Regions from separate parts of the Homo sapiens genome. Here region 2 is linked to region 1. Evidence: fine-mapped expression QTL. A gene starts in region 1. The other region holds a variant in brackets. All regions are shown on one strand. Distances are from middle to middle. Region 1 holds the start of OTX1 (orthodenticle homeobox 1). Region 2 overlaps WDPCP (WD repeat containing planar cell polarity effector).

What was found. PIP is the estimated chance that this variant, and not a neighbour inherited with it, causes the effect. A credible set is the group of variants that fine-mapping cannot tell apart.
Region 2: its variant is the best candidate, but not a certain one, in a credible set for the expression of OTX1 in whole blood (TOPMed, PIP 0.50).

The regions. Positions count from the first base shown.
Region 1 is chr2:63,049,684-63,052,588 of GRCh38, forward strand. OTX1 (orthodenticle homeobox 1) reads left to right here and starts at 1,147. Exons shown (of 5, transcript NM_014562.4): 1 at 1,147-1,214; 2 at 1,566-1,634. RefSeq lists enhancers at 1-285, 1-396 and a silencer at 513-1,172.
Region 2 is chr2:63,320,632-63,323,536 of GRCh38, forward strand. The region is part of intron 12 of WDPCP (WD repeat containing planar cell polarity effector); the gene reads right to left. Among named protein-coding and RNA genes, the nearest start is that of WDPCP, 270 kb to the right of the region's middle. RefSeq lists an enhancer at 2,882-2,905. The variant A/G (reference allele first, on the strand shown) is at 1,272.

The DNA.
Region 1 (2,905 bases):
GGGTAGAAATTCCTCGAAAGGGAATAAAGTGCCTAATTTTCAGGAGGAGGTGCCATTTAAAAGATTCGCCTAGCTTAGAGTTGGAACGAAAACTCTTTTTTGCACTTTTAAAAGTCCACCCAGGTAGACGTGTTTGGGAAGTTTTTTCGGGTGGGAAATGGGCTTCGCCCGTACGAACAATCCGGGGAAATCGCCTCAAGGAGGATCCTTACGCAGCATGTGGAAAAAAGTTGAGGGCAGGGGTCTGTGGCCACATTTTCCATCAAAAAGTCCCTGTTAGAGGCAGTCTAAGAAAGAGAGAGAAAGAGCGAAAAAGAAACTTTCCTATCAAAATGTTTCAATTAAGAAGTAGGGTGTACGTGTGAGGGGAAGAGGACGCTGGGCTCCAACGTTTCAGTAGAAGCGCTTAAGACTTGCAAACACCCTTGGTGGGGACCTGGAACCCCGGGAGATGCCGACGAGCAAGCAGGTAAGTGGCGGCGCCCTCCCAGTGGGTGCTCTTCCCAGGCGCGAGAGTCCGGAGGGGCCGAGGAGAGATCTGCACGCCCGGAGCTGCTCCCGCGCTCTGCAAAGTAGCCTGCGCCGGCACGAGCAGCCCGCGGCGTCGGTCTCAGGTGGCGGCGCCGGGGAAGAAAACGCTGGGGCCCGCGGCGCCGGGAGAGGGGCCGAGGCCCGGGCTCCTCCAGCCCGCCGCCCCCGGGTCCTGGCGCCCACACCCGAGCGGCTGAGCCCTGTAGCGCGCGGGAGAGCGAAGGAACCGGTTCTCCAGCACCTCGCCTCCTCCCTGCCACTCCCTCCGGAGCGCCGAGAGCGCGAGAAGGGCGGGGGCGCCCAGGGCAGGCCTGGAGACCCACGGCCCCCTCCGCGGCCAGGACTCGGGCTCTCCGCTCGCCTTCCTCGCCTAGCTCTGCGCCGCTTTTGCCAGCCGAGTCCCGGAGTTAGCGCGCGACCGGGGCGGGGCGGGAGGGCGGGGAGGGCGGGGTGTGGGGGGCGGGGGAGGGCGGGGGCGCGCGGAGGTAACCCCCGGCTCGCGCAGCCATTGCCCGGCTCCCTGTCACTCAGCCCGCGCGGGGCCCCCGATTGGCGGCCTAGCCCCGTTACGCACTCGCCTCGCGTTCACATACCCGGGGAGGGCAGTAGAAAGGTGATCAATCTTCATCAGGCTACATTTCCAATCACCTAAACAACCGAGCAAGACAAGCCACTCCGACAAGGTAAATCGCTTGATTTATTTAGTTTGCAAAGTGACTCTGCAGGACTTCCCAGTCCCCACTGCCTCCACGTTGCACCGGGAGTGCCGCGGCAACGCCGAGCCACCTCCCAACTCTGCCCCTCGAATTCCCCCCCTTGCGGCCCCTCGGCGCGATCCCAGGCGAGGCAATGTCCTGAGAACGTGTGGGGCTTAGCAAACAAAGTGTCTGTGCAATAAAGTGAAACCCAGAAGGACACGCACAAAGCCATTGAAAAAAAAGATAGAGGTGGGAAGAAGGAAGTTGGGAAAAGAAAGAAACCTGGGGGTCCTAGACCAGCCGCCAGGGTAATTCCAGTGCTGCTCTGTTTTGCAGGTTGGCTGCCCGGCGGGTCTCTGTGAGAGATCCAGGTAGATGGTGAACGGCCCCGGCAGCTGAGGGCAGGTAAGGAGAAAGCCGCGGGGCCACCCCGGACTCCGGGAGCGCGTTGGTTACCCTTATCTCCCCCTCCTCAAATGGATCCCGGCTTCCCCGGTCCCCAGCAGGTGGTCGGGGCTGTGGGAGCGGCCTGGCTCCCCTCTTGGTGAGCCGAGGACCCCGGGGCGCTGTCGCGGCCCGCAGCCCCCTCCCCCGCCTCCTCCGAAGTAACCAAGCTGAAGTGCTAAGTTTGGAGAAAGTCTTTGAAAACTCACGCTGCAGCTTCGCAAAGCCGTCGCAGCTTTGAGTCCCATTTTCCTTCGGCCCTAGAGCCCTGGCTGCTTCCCTTCCGGTCCCCTTCCTACAAGCTGGACTCCCTCAGCCCAGGTCTTGGGTCCCAGAAGACGGGGGCGGGAACGGGGCTGGGGGGAGCTTCTTTAGCTCTAACTTCTCTCCTTGAACGTCCTAGCCCGAGTCCCTGGCTTGCTTCACAGCGATCCCGCTAAGCGGGGTGTAGCGATGGCCCCCCAGGGCCCCAGGCCCAGTTTCCAGCGCCCCTCCCTGACCCCTGAGAGTGGCACCCCGGGTTCCCGGCAGCGGCGGGGGCGAGGCTTCGACCTCCCAGCTCGGGTCTGCGTGGGCTACGCCGCTGAGGCCTAGTTCTCTGTTCTCGACCGTGTCCTGGGGCCGCGGGTTCAGCTACAAGGATGGCAGCACGCGACTTGCTGCCCTCCGGCTTCACAAATCCCCGAGACCCTTTGAGGTGCTAGGCCAGTCACCCTTCACCCCCTGCTGGGACCCTGCGGTCCGCAGCCCAGACTGGGCAGAGAGAAGGCCGGGTGCGCGCTGGCAACGAAGGACGCTGGCCGCAGCTGAGGCGCTCCCGACCTCAGGCCGCATCTTGGGGTCGCCCCCCTCTACAGTGGCCCCTTCGGCGTCCTCTGGCCCTCTGCGAAGCCTGGGCCCGTTACTGCGGTTGAGGTGCGGTGGGATTTCGCGTCAGCGATCTTTCAGTGGCTGGGCACAGAGAGGTCAGCTGGAGTGGTGATTGCGGGATCTGGGGCAGGGGCGCAGCCCTGGAGACCTTTAAAGGAACCAAGTGTCTAAGTGGACAAGAAGTGCAATTAGCCCTCCACATTGGCCCTTTGTAGTCTCTACCTTTTCAAAAACACGTGAAACAAAATGAAACAACGCCTCATGCTCTGGGCGGCCTGCCGTCCGGGCACCAAGTGAACCTTTGCTTGTGCAACATGAAGCTGGCTTCTGCCGGATTCAGAATTTTGCCTGGACTTGGGAGC
Region 2 (2,905 bases), 270 kb after region 1:
TAGAACACTAAGGATATAAATGTAACCCTTACAGCACCACTAAAAAAACAGTGCAAGTAGGTATGACTGAAAAAGCAAATAAATAAAAAATCTGGAAAATATTAAAATAATCCAAAGAAGGAAGGAAAAGAGGAGTGAAGAAACAAAAATTAGTAAAAATTAGTACAAACAAAAAACAAAATGACAGACTGAATTGCAACTACATCCATAATTACATTAAATGTTAATGAACTGAACATTTCAATTAAAAGACAAAGACTGTCATAAAAGAGCAAGAACCAAATATATGCTGTTTGTAAGAAGTCCACTATAAATATACAAACACAGATAGTTTGAAAGTACATAAATAGAAAAATGTAAATATGAAAAGGCTAGAATGGCAATAATTATCAGATATAATATACTTTAAAAAACAGTATTAAAGGAGGGACATTTCATAATGATAAAAACACCAATTCATCAGGAAGACCCAACAATCATGACTGTGAGTGTCTTAAATATATGAAACAAAAAAAAGGTGACAGAAATAAAGAAGACAATTATATTAACAGTTGCTTTTAGCACACCTCAATCAGCAAGATAAACAAATGGAAAGTTAAACAAATAAAGTAATAGATGATCTCTATATTCATGTAACTGATATTATAGAACAATATCAGTCTGAAGTACTGAAGTGTGTCTCTATTATCAGAGTATATATATATATATATACATTTTGATATGTACTTTGTGTGTATAGACATATATATACACTCTGTGTGTGTGTGTGTGTGTGTGTGTGTGTGTGTGTGTGTATCCACCCACATGAGAGCTCCTTATTGTTACTTTGCTGATTTATTTCCTCATTTTTGTCATTCTGGCCCATCTTAGACTGAAAATGTTACGTGCAAATTAACTACTGGTTTGCTTTTGTCTGTTTCTTCTTATATCTCCTACAATTTCTGCTTTACGAAGATTCCTATCATTTTATTTGGTACACGGATATAACTTTTTTTTATTATGAAAGGTAGCCCACAGCATTGTAGAGTGACTTTCTTTGTTCTGTTTAATAATCTGTGGCATAATTCTGTCTTGTTATACAGTATATAATAATCCCTGCTTAGTTTGTATTTTTTGCCATATGGCAACTTTGCTTTACTTTTTAAAAAATTGTTTTGATTTCATATTTGTTTTGTATATAGGAATGTTTACATTTTTATAAACTCAAGTATGTATAATTAATGTAATTCTCTTGAGCTCCTTTTTCTTTATTTCTATTGTCTTCTTTTTAC[A/G]TATCACTTTACTGAGGTATTATTGACACAAAAAAAGCTGTACATATTTAATGTATACAACTTGATTAATTTGGAGGGAAGTAGACACCACTGAAGCTATTACTGAGAGGTGAAGCCAGCTGGGTTTCTGGGTTGGGTGGGGACTTGGAGAACTTTTCTGTCTAGCTAAAGAATTGTAAATGCACCAATCAGCACTCTGTGTCTAGCTAACAGGTAGGGGGCTTGGAGAACTTTTCTGTCTAGCTAAAGGATTGTAAATGCACCAATCAGCACTTTGTGTCTAGCTAAAGGTTTGTAAATGCACCAGTCATCACTCTGTCAAAATGGACCAATCAGCTCTCTGTAAAATGGACCAATCAGCACTCTGTAAAATGGACCAATCAGCAGGATGTGGGTGGGCCCAGATAAGGGAATAAAAGCAGGCCACCTGAGCCAGCAGTGGCAACCCGCTCGGGTCCCCTTCCATGCTGTGGAAGCTTTGTTCTTTCGCTCTTCACAATAAATCTTGCTGCTGCTCACTCTTTGGGTCCATGCTGCCTTTATGAGCTGTAACACTCACCGTGAAGGTCTGCAGCTTCACTCCTGAAGTCAGTGAGACCATGAACCCACTGGGAGGAAGAAACACCTCCAGATGTGCCACCTTTAAGAGCTGTAGCACTCACTGCGAAGGTCTGCGGCTTCACTCCTGAAGTCAGCGAGACCATGAACCCACCAGAAGAAGAAAGTCTGGACATGTCTGAACATCAGAAGGAACAAACTCTGGACACACCATCTTTAAGAACTGTAACACTCACCGCAAGGGTCCACAGCTTCATTCTTGAAGTCACCGAGACCAAGAACCCACCAATTCCAGACACATTTTGGCGACCCAGATGGGACCATCGCCTATCGCCAAGAAGTGAGACTATCGCCTATTGCCAAGTGGTGAGTACCATCGGACCCCTTTCGCTTGCTATTCTTTCCTATTTTTCCTTAGAATTCGGGGTCTAAATACCAGGCACCTGTCGGCCAGTTAAAAGCTACTAGCGCAGCTGCCAGACTAAAGACACAGGTGTCAGGCTTTCTGGGAAAGGCCTTTCTAACAATCCCTGACTCTTCAGAGTTGGTAGCGTTGGTTTGCCTGGAACCAGCTTCCGCTTTTCCTGTACTTCTGGACTGAGCCCAGGGTCGACAGAGAGGAAAGCCATTCAGCTCCGGGGTCCCAACAACAAGTTGGTTGACCCTGTGGCCATGAGTGGAACTCTCAAAGTCATGTCGCCCAAGCGAGACTTGCCCATCTATTCTATCTACCCTGACCATTGCCCCCTGGGTCCTAACGCCTGCCAGACAAACTTCCCCTTGCCTCTCTTCTCCAGGCTAGTCCTGCTTCTAAAAACCACTCCCTGTCTCTGGTGCTTTTCTAGTTTCTCCTATAAGAATGATTTCTAGTATAAATTTGGGATTCTGTTACCTTCTGTAGGCACCCAGGCTCACCAATCAGAAAGACGTAATTTTTGCCCAAAGCCCCATCGTAGGGGGGACTATCTGGAATTTTAGGATCCCTCCTCAGACTAGCAGGCCTAACAAAAGCTATTCCTGAAGCTAGAATATGGGGAGCCTCAGAAATTGTATCCTTCCTATTCATATAAGTAAGG